2 separate regions of the Homo sapiens genome follow, and region 1 is linked to region 2. A link means that fine-mapping ties the variant in region 2 to the expression of a gene that starts in the linked region. Tissue or cell type: whole blood. Region 2 holds a variant in brackets; the other region holds the start of a gene. All regions are shown on one strand. Distances are from middle to middle.

Region 1 (8,103 bases), 780 kb before region 2:
TGTGTGTTTGTATACCTGATGGCATGTCTGTGTAAGTTACATACAGCCTGACTTAGCATCTGTCTGTTTCAGCCTGTAATAGGCGAGGGTCAGAATTTTCACATTCATTGAGATATATTCCTGGAACTTGTCTGTAAATCATTGTCATCCAGGAAGAGGTGTGTGAGTGAATGACTTTCTGTGTCTGCTCCTGTAATGAGGCACTTATTTTTAGCTGAGCCAGTGGGTGCCTGTTGATGAAATCGATGTTTATACTCTTCATCCCTATGGGTTTGTACCTGTCCCTGTTTATCTCTGCATATTTATCTACCTACATAAACAACTTCAAAAGCCAAATATTCTACTGTTTACCTCACATCCTCAGCTCTTTCCTTTCCTTCACCATTCTTTCTTATTTATAGCTTGTTTTCAGCAAGGAAAGCTGCTCTCATGAATAGCAAACCCCAGCCACACTGTTGATTGACAAATCTCTACAGATGGATAAGGATTACAGCATGATGGTTATGCAACTCAAGATCCCCTAGCCCATCTTTTCTTGTTTTCTTTTCAACTGGGGGTGCAGTAAGGCGGTGTTAAAAATGCAGGCAAGCTATTCCTTTGAATAAAAGCGGTATCTGGGATTTAGGTTTATAGGACTTCAGAGTTAGAAGGGTGCCTGGGAAATCATCTAGCTTAGAAACTCTATTTAACAGTTTGGGAAACTGCAGCCTCAAGAGAGGAAGTGTCTTTCCCAATGTCAGGCACTGGGAGTTAGAACACACTTTTTTTTTTTTTTTTCACCCTTGGCCAATGCTTTTCCTACATAGAGGGCACAACAGTCTTGGGAAATACACAAGAAGTTCCCCAAATCAAAATGAAGATAAACAATATTATGATTTTAAAATTTTTCCTGTCAGTACTTCTAGTAAAGGAAAGTTCTATACAAACCCCAAGATGATGGAGCTGCCAGGAAAAAAAAAAAAAAAAAAAGCTGAGAATGATTTCACTAGGTCTTTGGATGCCTTTAATCCATCAGTTCTAAAACCCTTTGCATTATGAGGGAATGCCACAATTCGCAAAGTGCTTCCCTGTGCATTATCCCATTTCTTCTACACACTATCTACCCCCTAGAGGTGGCTGCTGTTACTGTTCTTTAACTGTAGAGGGAATGGGGCCCAGAAAGAAGTATTAGTTCAAGGTCAAATGGTACCTTCAGGGCACAGCCAGAGCTAAAACCCAGGTCTTCAAACACCCTTGCAAGGAGATTATCATGGCCCAAGGCTTCCCCGGAATCCTGAGAGATCACAAGGGCAGGGCCTAGAATTTGCTGCAGGCCTTGAATTTGGGGGTGGGGTACGTTCAGACTGATGTTCTTAGAGGGTTTCAAGGGTCCCCTCCAGCCAGCAGGCAGAGACCCTGAAAAAAAGGTTACCGTGGCAACTCGCATTCCTCGGAGAGTGAGTCAGGCAGAGAAGAGCCTTCTGGTGGGTGGGACTTGGAGAAAGTTTCAAAAGTTGATTCCTTCTCCAGGCAACCCCCTTCTTCTCCTCCCTCCCCCTCTTTGCTCTAGGCTATGTCGATGTGGCAGCTGATAGCTGAGAGTTAACTCTCTCTTTCCTCAACCACTCCCTTTTCAGAAGGCTTCATCCTCCAGCAAATACACACATTTGTTACCAGTCCTCACTCCATCCCCACGTCATGCCCTCTAATCCATTTGAGAATATCTTAAAGCTGAAAGCTGTGACCACCCATATTCATCCTCTCTCTCTCTCTCTCTCCCTCTCTCTCTCACACACACACACACACACACACACACACACACACAGTGCATACAATTTTTAGGGGCTTAGAGATGGCTTGAGGCCCATTCAAAGACCACTCCATAGACCCTGGTTAAGAAATCTTCCTTTGAATATTTTAGAGGACACAAAGCACCCCAAAGAGCCTTCAGTTTCAGCCTTCTTTCATTACAGATGGGGCACTAAATCCAGGGGAGACACTTACCTAAGATCACACATAAAATGCATGCCCGAAGCCTGTGTCCTACTTCTGCTTTGCTTCTCACTAAACCACCAGCACTTGGGGCGTATAGAAATTTAACTCTAAAGCATTACTAGAGAAAACATTTTCTCTAATGAAAAAAATGCTGTCCTTTCCTGAGGAAAATGCATGCCTCTCTGTTCCCTTTTGGGCAGACTGGGAATCCTGGAAGACATAACTCATCCCAGTGCCCCCCTTCCCTTGGAGTCCTTGGAGTCCCTTTCCCTAAGGAAGTCCACTTGACAGCCAGTTCACGGAGCCAGTGGCGGCGAAGAAAGGTAGTGGATTTGTCTGAAGAAGAACTGACACCCTGACAGGCTGGACACTAGTCTTGGGTGGATTACGGAAGGGGACCCTGGAATTCTCTCCCTCTTCCCTTCCCCCTTTCCCCCTTCTGAGAATATCTCCCCCAGCACACTCCACCTCCCATTACACCCATGTCTTGGTTGACGATATCTGATGTCTGGGTTTTCAGATCTAGATAAACTAAGGGCTACTGCCTGTGTTTACCATCCCAAGGAACTCAGGACAGGAACAACACCTAACCCAAGACTGAGGTTGTGATGGTGCCATTTCAGGCAGAATGGTGCTGAAATTTGTGTATTGGGGGGACGGAAGGTGGTGTTTGGGAGTGAGGAGAATTAGAGGAAAACAGAAGGCTTCCCAGAGGTGTGGATTAATGGTGAAGCCTCCCCCTTTGCCTTTCAGAGATCAACTGATTGTTCGTGCAAAGTCCCTTTTGGAAAACAGAACCCCTGACCGAGATCTGGAGGACAGACTCCGGTTGCTGGCCAGGTCCCTGTGGCAGCTGTGATGGGATCAGATTCCCAGGAAAGGAGGAGGCTGCCACATTTGCAAAGGGAGCAAAGAGGACAGGCAGGCAGCCTCTGAAACCAGAGACAGACACAGAGAAAAACAGAGAGTGAGAAAATGCTCCCCCGAAGACATAGTGAGATTATTTTCTGTAAACCTGTAAGGGAAGACAAAGTTACACAGTGAGTCCACCTTCTGAAAAGCAACAGGCAGACAGGACCGAGGGCCATGCTCTTAAGGGGAGCCGTGATGGAGCCGGGAGGAGAGGCGCATCCTCAGCAGAGCTTCCCTCCCTTGCACACGAGCTGACGGCGTGAACGGGGGTGTCGGGGTTGGTGCAACTATAGAAGGGAAAGGCTGGGCGGGGGTCACACATACCTCAGTGGCAGGCAGGCAGGCGGCAGGCAGAGCGCGCTCTCCGGGCAGTCTGAAGGACCGCGGGAATGTGGAGGGGTTTAGAGACAGGCAACAGGAAACCACTCAGAGCTCTGGGCTGGGTCTATCTCCCCTCCACCCCGTGGTCCCTCCTCCTCCTGTCTCCTCCTTCCCCCGGCCTCCTCCTTCTCCCATAGCCAAAGCTGTCTCTGTCTTTCATTTCTTTCCTCCTCTTTTTGCGGTGGGCTGTCCTGACCAAACGTCCCAACCCTGCCTGCCTCATCTGTTCCGGGGCTGCTGCCTAAACCGACTCACAGAGTGCCAGGGCTGGACAGGCCTGGAGGGATGACCCAGAACAGCCTCTTTCTTGTTCAGAGGGCAAGTGAGGCCTGGAGACTGCAAGGAATTACCCAATGGCCCCCAGGGGCAGAACCAGGCCCAAGTGTCTTGATCTTCTAACCAGTGAGCTTTACAGGAGTCCTCCCTAATATTAGGCAATGCTGAGAAGGGCCAAGCAATTCAAGGGGGTTGTATTTGCCACAAAGGCAAGGCCAGGACTTACCACTGTACAGACAAGACAAGCTGCTACTAGTGGTATCATCCTTGATGATTTGGAACTGGTCTTAAAAAAAAAAATCCCACTCAAACTCCACTTGTACCACTAATAGACACATAAGGGATTAGACATCTAGCTGGTGGACCTGTGCCACCAGTATTGAACAGATAAGGTAATTGATGATATTGATGATAATCATAGGAGTAACAATAGCCAAAGTTTACTGAGGATTTAATAATCTTCACAGCAACCCCTTATCTTAGGCATTGTAATTATGACCATTTTAATAATAAGGAAACATAGATGCTAAGTAACTTGCCTATGATCACCTGGCAAAAAGTGGTATGAGAGGGCTGATTCTACGTTTCAACTTGGGTCACTCCTGTTATATATGAACTGCTCAGTGCAACAGGTCTTGGTTGAATGTTTATTTTGTGCCTAACACTCTGGGAGGTATGAGAATTAATAAATACCTGGTCCTTGTCCTCAAAAAGTTTTGTGGTTTCCGGTTTTTTTGTTTGTTTGTTTTGTTTTGTTTTGAGACAGAGTCTCACTCACTCTGTCGCCCAGGCTGGAGTGCAGTGGTATGATTTCGGCTCACTGCAACCTCTGCCTCCCGGGTTCAAGCAATTATCGCGCCTCAGCCTCCAGAGTAGCTGGGATTACAGGCGCACATGCCACAACACCCAGCTAATTTATTGTATTTTTAGTAGAAATGGGGTTTCAACATGTTGCCCAGGCTGGTCTCGAACTCCTGAGCTTGGGCAATCCGAATGCCTTGGCTTCCCAAAGTGCTAGGATTACAGGCGTGAGCCACCGCACCCAGCTTAGCTTTGTGGTTTCTTAAATTCTTTTTTAATTTTTTTAGACGAGTTAAGTGCAGAACTGAGAAGGGAAAAAAAGTACAAGGAATTCAATCTGTGACTGTGAACAATCAATCGAGATAACTCACTATTCAAGGAGCTTTGGATCTTGCTGAAAGGTTGTGCCTTACACATACACCCACTTACATGAGTGGTACAGACTCTAAGGCTTATCCCAGGGCTTCAGATTGGTGGATTCCTGAAAGAGGTGGACCTGGAAGCATGGGTTGGGTTTGAATACCATGGAAAGGAAGAAGGCAGAGAACACCCTCATGATACACTTCCATCCGCTGTGGCCCCTGTCTCTCTTGCCATTCTCTCCTCCTACCACTGTCCTCTGTGCCCACGCTGCTCCAGCCATGCCAACTTCCTTCCAGTCCTTCAACTACCCCAAAGCTTCTCCCACCCCAGGATTTTTTTTTTTTTTTTGAGACAGACTCTCACTTTGTTGCCCAGGCTGGAGGGCTGTGGCGCAATCTCAACTCACTGCAACCTCCACCTCCTGGGTTCAAGTGATTCTGCTGCCTCAGCCTCTCAAGAAGCTGGGATTACAGGCATGCACCACCACACCAGGCTAATTTTTGTATTTTTAGTAGAGACAGGGTTTCACCATGTTGGCCAGACTGGTCTCGAACTCCTGACCACAAGTGATCCGCCCGCCTTGGCCTCTCTAAGTGTTGGGATTACAAGTCTGAGCCACCATGCCCAGTATCTTTGCATTTGCTCTTACCTCTGCCAGAGACACTCTTCCACCTGATTTTCCTGTGCCTATTCTAATGTCACCTCCTTAGGGCCACTCAATCTACTTGCCTCTCTCACAGGCACAGTTCATCGCCTTACACTGTTTTATTTCCTCCCCATCACCTGTCATTCTCAGAAACCATTTGTTTCCCCAACTAGACAGAAGCTTGGTGAGAGCAGGGACTTCACATGTCTGTTTACTGCTTTGTTCCCAGCATGTTGACCAGTGCCCCACACAAAGCTGGCTTGCAATATTTTATTCAATAAATATATGAACTTCCGACTTGCCCATCTGAAAAAAGAGAGGGTTGTCTTTTACTAGGGTTCCAGCCTGGAACACTGCCCCACACCCAAGAGACCCTCAAACCACTAAAGTGGAATATAAAAGTTAGGGTGTTTGGTCCTTTTGAGAACCTAAAGGAAGCAATGAACTTTCTCTGCAGAAAAATCCACAAACACCCAAGAAGGAGTCTTCTCCAAATGACCCCCAAGGGCCGGGTGCAGTAGTATGTTCCTGGAGTCCCAGCTACTCTGAGGCTGAAGCAGGAGGATTGCTTAAGGCCAGAAGCCTGAGACTAGCCTCGGTGACAGAGCAAGATGCTGTCTGTAATAATAATAAAATAATAATAATAATAATAAGGCCAGGCATGGTGGCTCACTCCTGTAATTCCAGCCCTTTGGGAGGCTGAGGCAGGTAGATCACCTGCGGTCAGGAGTTCGACACCAGGCTGGCCAACATGGCAAAACCCTGTCTCTACTAGAAATACAAAAGAAATTAGTTGGGCATCATGGCACGTGCCTGTAATCCCAGCTACATGGGAGGCTGAGGCAGGAGAATCGCTTGAACCCAAGAGGCGGAGGTTGCAGTGAGCCGAGATGGCACCATTGCACTCTAGCCTTGGAGACAGAGCAAGACTCCGTCTCTAAATAAATAAATAAAGACCCCCCAAGGCCTCTCACCCTGGTTCAAAAGCCAAGTGCTTTTGGCTGCTGAATACAGGGTGCTGGTGGACTCTCCACATATCTGTTTTGCCATCCGGACAGATGTATATTTTTATAGGATTGGTTGCTATAGCTCCCAGGCATTATGGGACTAAAATTAGCAGAAGCTTTGTATTTTTATTCATAAACTAAAATGATGATTCTGATGAGGATGAACCAGTGGAACTCTTCCCAGTTTTTGGCTGGTGTTCCCATGTGGCTTTCAGTTCAGGAAGTGGAAGTCTGGTTGGGGCTGGGCTGAAGCTCTGGAAGAGAGATCCCTCCTGAGGGCCACTTCCAGGTCTCTGTGGGGACACCCTGAGCCAGAATCACTCCCAGAAAGAAAACTTGGTAGGTTTTATATCTAAGGATAAGAGCACATGGCTGGGTGCAGTGGCTCACACCTGTAATCCCAACACTTTGGGAGGCAGAGGTGGGTGGATCACCTGAGGTCAGGAGTTCGGTGACCAGGCTGACCAACATAGTGAAACCCCGTCTCTACTAAAAATACAAAATTAGCCAGGCTTGGTGGCTCACGCCTGTAATCCCAGCTACTTGGGAAGCTGAGGCAGAACTGCTTGAACTCAGGAGGCGGAGGTTGCAGTGAGCTGAGATAGCACCATTGCACTCCAGCCTGGGCAACAAGAGTGAAACTCCACCTCAAAAGGCAAAAAAAAAAAAAAAAAAAAAAAAAAGCATCCTGGGGCAACAGGAGCCTCTGAAGCAAGGATGACTCTGACCTAGAAAGGAAGACCACTAGGACTAAGGCTGGTCTTCCTGCCACCTGCCAAGGGCTTTATAGGAAGGGAGAGAAGCACAACGCAGCCAGGTGTGATAGACCTGGGTGTGAGTCCCACTCTGCTATTGAGTCACTGAGTGACTTTGGGCCCATCCCTGCCCCTCTGAACTACACCTTTTCTTTCTTTCTTTTTAATTGTGTTAATAGAGGCAAGGTCTTGCTAGGTTGCCCAGGCTGGTCTTGAACTCCTGGCCTCAAGCAATCCTCCTGCCTTGGCCTCCCAATGTGCTAGTATTACAAGCATGAGCCATTGTACCTGACCCTACACCTTTTCATTTATAAAATAGGTTGGACAGCAGAATAGTAGTAATAAGAGCCAGCATTTATTAAACACCTACTATGTGCCAAGCACCTGCTAAGCTCTTTGCATATATTGTCTGACTTAACTCTTATAAATCTGGAACTGTTATTATTCCCATTTTATAAATGTGGAAAATGAAGTTCATATCAATAATTTGCTCAAGCTTATGCACCAAGTATATGGTAAATCAGAGATTCAAATCCAGGTTTAAGGGACACCAGAGCCCAAGTGCTTGACTACTGCACGCTACTTCCCCCTCAACTCCTCTCCAGCTCTGACATACGTGGACTTCAGACCATACACCCCTCTCCCGAGTCAAGAATGTTGCTGATCCAACATTAGGCTGAATCAGCTTTTCATCTTGTAAAGCAATCCATCAGTATATTGGGGTCCCTGCTGCCTGCCCACTGCCCTCTCCAACCACTCTCCAGCTATGCTCTTCTAGGCACTTCTCACTTTACCCTGATCCTGCCCTCCTGACCTAGCACCCCAGCCACAGCCTTAGAACTCAAGGGACTGCCTGGGAAATGTCCACATGTGCCTGCCATCCAGGCTCCGTACACCCCCAGTACATCAGCTACCTCGTTCGTTCATTCAGTCTTTATTGTGCTTTGCATCAGGCACTGGGGATATAGCAATAAATAGGACAGACAAG
Region 2 (8,107 bases):
TCCCATCATTCCATTAGGGTGCATGGTGTTTCCCTGAAGCAATCCCCAGCCCTCGCCACACCTGCTGTAAGTGACCTGGAAACTCACAGCCCACCTTCTCCCCTTACAGTCGAGATGGGGAAGATGCATTCTGAGGTCTCTACCAAGAACTCCTGGCCTGAGACTGGTGCGTCCTCTCCTAGTGTGTGGGTAAGAAATGGTCCATCTTGTTCTGGGCTCTCTGACGCTGAGGTCTGACCAAGACAGCCCAACCACCTTTGGCAGGCATGAGGAATTGTGTTGAAGGTCTCTAGGTGCAGACTCAATCTGCAGTGGGAAGTGTTAAGTGAACAGAATTATAGAAATTTTTCTAATTGCCTGTGTCTTTCAGACACACAAACAGGTCTAGAGTACAAGGTCATCTGCTATTAATAAGCACAGAGATTACTGCAACCAGTGGCCTCTCTTGGACTTTGCTGAGAGAGTGAAGTACTCAGGGATTGTCTGAGTCTGACCTCCCTAAAATGGAAACATGTCAACTCCACTCTAGGGGCACAGGCAGCACCGGTGAACCTGGACCCAAGGAAGCAAAGGTATCTACAGTATAGCATTATTGGACTTATTTCTATTGGTTTCTGGAAGCTGTTGGTCTTAGCAGTGTCAGCCAAGTCTTCCATTCCTGCTAAATAGCCAGGAATCTTGGAGGAGTTGAAATTATCTTGCCTTGTGCTGACACATGTTAAAGTTTTGACTAGTGACATCTGGTGTCAGTTTTGGGAAGCTGGGAAGACAGTGGCAAGCAAGGATGATCCAAGGGCTTAATGTTGTCTTTGATGGAGCCCTCCTTTCCTTGAGGTAGCTGCCTGAAAGTTTGTTAGCCGAGTTTTGAAGATCAAGCTGTAGCTGTAGGTCTTTCAGGCAGACCATGGTACGTTGCTCCCAGATTCCACTGGCAGGAAGATTGGGCATTTCACTGAAGCTTGAAATCAGACTAAACCTACAATTCATAGAGGACTGGGAAAGAGGAAGGTATTAGCTGGGGGTATCATGGATGCTGTAAGTTCAAATGGCTGCCTTTCAGTTATGAGTAGAAACTAAGTGATAAGAAAACAAGAAGTCGTCTTATGTTGGGTCCAACTGTGACTGTTCTGATATCTCCTGAATGGAGACGATTCTTACCTAATTCCCCTACAAATTGCAAGACCTAGAATTTAAAAGATGCTCATTTATTTTGACTGTGATAATGGAAAAAATTGCCAAGGAGCTTGATGCCAACAGAGATTTGAGTGAAAATGCACCCTGAGTTCAGGTTCAACTCATCCATCTTGGCTGTATGAAGGAAACTAAGTTCTTGCTGACTCTATAGAAAATTTTCACTTTTGAACCAAAAAATTGTTGAAGCAAATGGGCTATGGGTTGGCAGAAGGCCTGGCCATCTCTGTAGCATAATCTGAGGTGGTTGTGGACCAAAATTTTATGAAACATTTGAGACAGACCTGGGGGAGAGGAAGAGAAAGAGGGGCCTGGCATTCTAGCCAGTATTTTCTCAATGACAAGGAGGCCGAGGGGGATTAAAAAGAAATAGGCAAGACTTAGAGTGTCCGTGAAGGAAGGACATGACAAGAGAAGGAAATATCTTAAAGATGAATACTCAAGAGGTAACAACTCATACACTTGCAGAGAAGATTGGAAAACTATAAAGCAAGCTGTTGCAGGGGGAAAGATTGTGATGACTGTGACCTGAATGCATTATGAATCCTCAATTGAAAATATTCTTGCAAATCTGCATGAGACAATATAGAAGTTGGAGAGACAACACTGTATCTGTATTCCAAGAAGAACTGCGTTATGACTAGCAAATGGGCAGAAGTGACTTATGGAAATAAGTGATAGCCAGGGCTGACTCTTCTGTCTCTATTCTCGTGAAGTAAAGGGGGAAAGCAGAAGATACTTCTTTAACTCCTTCTTGCAGGAGAGATAAGAAAGGGCCTTCCTTTTTTGAGTTGGTGTGAGAGGTTGATTGTAAATGAATAAGTACAAAGATACATTTGCTTCCATAAACTTGAAACTTTATTACCTGCAAACCACCATCCGAAGAGATGTATGCATAGTCAGATGTTCCACAGAAACAGTTTTAAAAAGTGGGTGATGGCCCATGATAAGCCATGGTGCCTACAATCCCAGCACTTTGGGAGGCTGAGATGGTCGAATCACTTGAGTCCAGGAGTTCAAGACCAGCCTGGGCAATGTGGCAAAACCCGGTCTTTACCAACAAAATAAAATAAGCCAGGCAAGGTGGCATGTGTCTATAGTCCCAGCTACTCAGGGAGCTGAGGTGGGTGAATCACCTGAGCATGGGAGGTCAAGGCTGCAGAGTGTCATGATTGCACCACTGCACTCCAGCCTGGGTGATAGAGTGAGACCTCATCTCAAAAAATAAAAAGTGGGTGAGGGGGACAGGCAGACAGCAGGGGTAATGTTAGAAACAGGGTTAATAAATATGGTCCAGACTGTGTCACCAAAAAGATTTCTTCTGTGGGAATTATATCTTTATTAGCAAGAAAACTTTGCTCAGAAGTTTCCTGAGTTCCCTCACCCTGACTTGATGGAGCACATTAAAATACCTTTTCCCTCTACCTTTTGATGAGTGATCAAGGAATTCATTTGTTTGGAGAATTAAGTCACCTAGGCCATTGCTATCTTGAGTGGGAATTCATTATGTGGCATAGTCAAGCAGAAGGCAACTGGTGTTGGTGCTGTTGTCATACAGTTTGCCTTTTAAGCTACACACCTATATTATTAGATAAAAACATTATTTTTGCGTGTTGTGCTAATAAGAGCAAAAAGATAAAGTCCCTGAAGAACCTAGATGCAGGTTTTTGGGGAGGATAACTGTGGACATGTCTGCTCCCTGAACCCTGGAAAGATTTATTTTACTGAACAAATTCTCATTAAGTGATACAGTCAAAGGGAAATGAAGAGCTACTCCACTTTAATAACTACTAAATTAATCCAAGAAACATTTAACTTGTAAGTCAGGCACTCCCTAGCCCAATGGCTTTGTAGTTTTTTTATTTGTCTTTGGTTTGGGGTTTTTTGTTTGTTTGTTTGTTTGTTTGGCTTAGGAACAGAGGAAATAGCAAAAAAGACTGAAAGATTATTGACAAAGATCAAGATCCAAAATCAGAAGCTTTCATTTCCAACTAAACTCTGTACAAGTGTTCTGGATGGGGCAAATTAACAATTTAACTTAATGCTTGCCAATGAAGATGGTAGCTTGCTGTGACCTTTTTTCTATGATGTACCAGAAACAGCAATCAATTTGCCCCTTAGAAATTGTGCCCAGGAATAAAACTAATGCTAGGGAGAGTACACTGTATTGAAAGCACCCTGGAGTTAAAACTAGAGTGGTTCTATGTAGCCATAGGAATAAATATAAAGATTAAATAGACTAAATGAAGAGACTGATATCAACCTTTCTTTTTTATTCCTTAAAACTTGGCTAAAACATGCACATGAAAATTTGATCTAAATGCCTTAAAATAATATTTGTATATTTTAATCAAAACTTATGAAAAGGTCTAA[C/G]TAGGTAACTTTTTAGCTGTTTCTCGTTTATCTGTGCATGAAGAGGTAGTGTGTACACGAAGAGGTAGTGTGTACAGAGGCTACACATTCCTCGACTTCTAATGAGAGCCATCCACATTTCGGCTACAGGGTCTATGAGGAACAAACCAGCTAGTTGAGGGCCTGGCTTACAATACAATGTTTATTCAGTAAAGACAAAGAGTGCAGTTCTTTATCTTTTAAAGAAGTGTGGAGAGAGGGTGGAAGGATTGGATATTTGCAGGGAGGGAAAAGGAAGGACAGCTCAGGGCATTGAAGGTAAATGCCACTTCTCTGTCAGGGTGGTCAGTGCCGGCCAAGGGTCTTTGTGTCGAAGGGCTATGCAAAGAGAAGATGTCAGAGATAAAAGGTTTTCACCTGTGGTTAGGCATTGCCAGATCTCTTGATTTAGGGCTGTGGCATTGCCTTGAGCAACTTACTAATGGAAAGGACTATTTGACTTAGAGGCTCGACTTTTTTGCGCTCAGGAATTTGAGTTACCAGTTATTTTTTACCCATTTAAGGACATGCATTTTCTTGCCAGTAAAGTTCAGATTTCCTACAAGATCGGAAATAAATAGTATATGAAAGTACAACCTGTAAATTCTCATTTGCTGAGCTCCTACATGAAAATTCATATATTTTTTCTATAGAAATACTCCTAATCTTGCTTTCTTGTGTATCTGTACCAGTAAAACGTGTCCCTTGCGTATAATTTATAGAAGTATTATATGAGAATATGCAAGAAAAAATGCTGGTATAGTTACAGTGTTAAGGGTTTATACTATTTCTAAAATAGACTGCATCAGTGATTAAAGAAATCGCTTTGTAAAATGGTTTTTCTTTCTCACTTCTACCCCCATTCTTATGGACTTCGTTGGGTGAGCATTTCTATGCCTGGGAGTCATTTTCTTGGCAAGTTGCTGTTAACGAGAATGTCCTATCTCTCAGCTGTGCTAGGACAGAAAATCATACTGACACTTACTGTGACAGGCAGACTAGTGCCTCCCCACAAAGATGCCCACATCCTGATTCTCAGAAGTTGTGAATATGTTGCCTTACATGACAAAAGAAATTTTGCAGCTACAATTAAATTAAGGACCTGAGATGGGAAGATGACCCTGGATTTTCTGAGTGAGCTCAATCTAATCACATGAGTTCTTCCAAGTGTTACAGAAAACCTTTCCTACCTGGGGTCAGAGGGAGATGTGACTATGGAAGAGAGAACCAGAGAGACTGCAGCATGGGAGGGACTTAGCTCCATGTCTCTGGCTTTGGTTAAAGATGGAGGAAGGGGCCAGAAGCCAAGCAATGCCAGAAGTTCCTAGAAGCTGCAAAAAGCAAGAAATAAGATTCTTTCCTAGAGCTTCCAGAAAGAGACACAGCTTAGTGAGACCCCTATCAGACTTCTGACCTTCAGAACTATAATACGTGTGTGTGTGTGTGTGTGTGTGTGTGTGAAAGCCACTAAGTCGATGGCAATTTGTTGCAGCAGCTGTAGAAAATTAATTCATCTACTGTCCTGGATTGAGGGTCTGGGACCTGAGTCCTGGAGTTCTTTTTCTAGTAGTAAGCTTTGCTCTGTGAATTTTTCTACCCTGTGAGCCAAATTCACAGGTCTGTATTTATAAAAAATGGGCTTCTTGAGTAATACAGATGAGAAAAATTTTAAGGACAATATATGTGGTTGTGGTAGTGTTGACAGTCAAAACAAGCACTCTGAGAACTACATTATCAGAAAATAGTGCATCTCTGTTTCAACTGAGTGTTCATCTCCTTAAGAAAGCACATTCTATATTTACTCAGCAGACCAGGATGAAATTGCAGTGGAGGGATTGTCTGAAACTATATTCACCTAAAACACAATTTTGCTAAATCAACTTTTCGAAAGTTCAGTAAAACTTTTGTTTTTAAATGATGTCAGAATAAATTGTTTGACTATATTAACATTTCAAATAGGTGTATTTTAAGTTTTTAAGCTAGCTTGTGATTCACATATGATTTTTTGTTAATTTCAGTTCATTTGTAAGCTTCAGTATCCTTGGGTGGCTGTGATTTTTGATGCTTATTTCTAATATGTTGAAATGTTACCTTTGAACTCAGAGCTAGAGTTTTAAGATAAACTGGGAATATGGGCAGTTTGATATTCAGAAATAGCATGGAAGATGGAATTGCTCTGTTAAAGTAGGGAGGAGTCTGGAGCCAAGTGGGGTGGGAGCGGGTGAGCTACCTGAACTTCTTGAATAAGCCCATTATGCAATAGCATGATTATCTCCAGAGAAGTTGGGGTGGTGTTCTGGATGGCAGCACAGTGGATGTGCTGCAAAGGCATAGCTGAGGTTTTGAAGAAGTGAGATGCAACAGAGCAGTAATCATGACATAATGTGTATATACAACATACACACGTGTGCAAATATTTACAACACAAAGGCATATTGATCAGCTAAAACAGCATGTATATTTGTAAACAAATAAATTACAAAGTATTTGTAATTCTACCACTTGGAGACTCGACTATGTTTTTGGAAATCTTCTGGTCTTTTCCTTTTGCTTTGCACCCAGTTTCCTTGCATAATCACTCTAGTTTACTAAAAGACAATTTGATGTCATTGTCAAGATCATGGTTTTTAAGGTCAGACAGCCCTGGGTAGAGTCAAGGCTCTGTTATGTTATAGGAGGCAAGTTATTTAACCTTGTTGAGACTTGTTCATCCATACAAGGAAGGTGATGATACAAATAACACAGTATTGTTCTGAGGATAAAAGAGAAAATACCATGATTTTCAATCCTCACTGCACATTAGAATCATCCAAGATCTTTGAAAAATTCCAATATTTGCATCCCACCTCCCCAGAGAGCCTGATGTAATTGTGCTGCCTTGGCTTGGCAGGTTTATTTCTGTTGTTGTTTTTAGTGATTTATCTAGGTCACTATGATGCAGCCAGGAGGACTGAGAAGTTCTGCAATAATGTTTGCAAAGCTCTTGATACTTAAAGCTCAAAAAGGCATTAGCATCATTATTGTACTTTTTTTTAATAAAAATGGATTAATAAAGCCCATTATTACCTGTTTTTTTTTCCCCACTCCCCTGCCATCTATGAGCTCTGGAAAAAGCCTACCACACTCCTCCTTTAGAGGTAGAGTCAAATCAACTAATTTGATTCAGCTTTCACTGACAAATGTGCAGCTGCCTTGTTTATCAGTTTCCAAGGCTGGATAGTATTCAGTAGTATCTTTATATTCCAATTTACTTAATTAGCCACACTAGAAATTTAGATCATTGAGAGTATTGTGCTAAAGAATATCATGAATCAGCTTGTGCATATAAATATCTTTATAGCTGTTCAACTATTTCCTTAGGATAAATTCTTAGAGAAACTGCTGGCTCAGAAGGTACATACACTTTCAGGGCTTCTCAACATTGTCAAATTGCCCTCCTTAATGGAGTGATCAATGTCATTTCAGATGTGTTAGGGCTACAAATAAGAAAAAAACTTAGTTCGAATTAATAAAGGAGATTGATTGGCTCATGTAACTGGCAAGTCTAGAGATTAAGTGAATTTCAGAACTAGTTTGATTCAGCATTTCAATAATACCATCAAGGATCCATCTACATCCCTTCATTTTCCCCCTTAGCCCTATGCAGTACCAGCTTTTTTTTTATAGTTGAAACAGGACTGCCAACAATTCCTGGAGACGCATGCTTCCTAATGCATACACAGGGAGAGAAGGCAGCTCCTTAAGCTCTGACTGTAAGAACAAGGAAGTTGTTTTCTTCAAAGTTCCAGCAAATCATGCCTTACTTCTGATTGGTCTGGTTTTGGTTGATCAGGGATGAGAACATGCTCATTAGTTTACCCCTGAGTTGCTGATTAGCTCATGTCTAAGTTATACAAAGAGGTAGGCTTCTTCCAGAGCTCATAGATGGCAGGGGAGAGCTTCAAATGTGCTGAAGGAAGGAGAATGTGCAGTGAGGAGACAACCACAATGCCCATGATGAGCAAAATTTGAGAGAATTAAATCTTGCTGCTACCTGCAAAGTTTGAGGAGAAGGGAAGAAAGTGAGTTTGTGAGAAATGGGCCTTAGCATTGTGTTATGAGTCTACCGTAGGCAACTTAAAGACATTTCCACAGCTGTAGGGGTGAATCAGTTGCATGCCTTCTGCCTAAGAGAATCCACTCAGGATGGTTTCATCCACATGAGTCTGGTGAGTTTAAAGAGTAGTAGGTTCAGTATCACAGGGCTGTTGCGTTAATCTGCAGCCAAAATGAGTGACTTCAATTTTCTGTACCATTTTATGTCTCAAGTAAACAAATACATAATTTCTTATAGCAAACATATATAGCAATCTTAAGTAAACCATTGCTTTTGCAAGTCTTGTTTCTTATTAACTGATCATCAATCGAAGTCAGGTGGAACATGAAGCAAATCTTTTATGAGAACTGCTTGATGATTATAGCCCTGAAAACCCTTTTTCCCTTGAAATACCATAATATAATGATTCTCAAACAGGATTCTGTGCAC

The links. PIP is the estimated chance that this variant, and not a neighbour inherited with it, causes the effect.
Region 1: it holds the start of SPARC, and the variant in region 2 is fine-mapped to the expression of SPARC in whole blood (INTERVAL, PIP 0.93).

What each region holds. Positions count from the first base shown.
Region 1 is chr5:151,683,655-151,691,757 of GRCh38, forward strand. SPARC (secreted protein acidic and cysteine rich) reads right to left here and starts at 3,261. Exons shown (of 10, transcript NM_003118.4): 1 at 3,211-3,261. It overlaps CLMAT3 (colorectal liver metastasis associated transcript 3), which reads left to right. Exons shown (of 5, transcript NR_109873.1): 4 at 2,175-2,297; 5 at 2,728-4,256. RefSeq lists enhancers at 714-1,543, 2,372-3,201, 3,202-4,029.
Region 2 is chr5:152,465,817-152,473,923 of GRCh38, forward strand. No RefSeq gene overlaps it. Among named protein-coding and RNA genes, the nearest start is that of NMUR2, 65 kb to the left of the region's middle. RefSeq lists enhancers at 1-49, 587-756, 1,014-1,183, 2,234-2,403, 7,378-7,547. The variant C/G (reference allele first, on the strand shown) is at 3,565.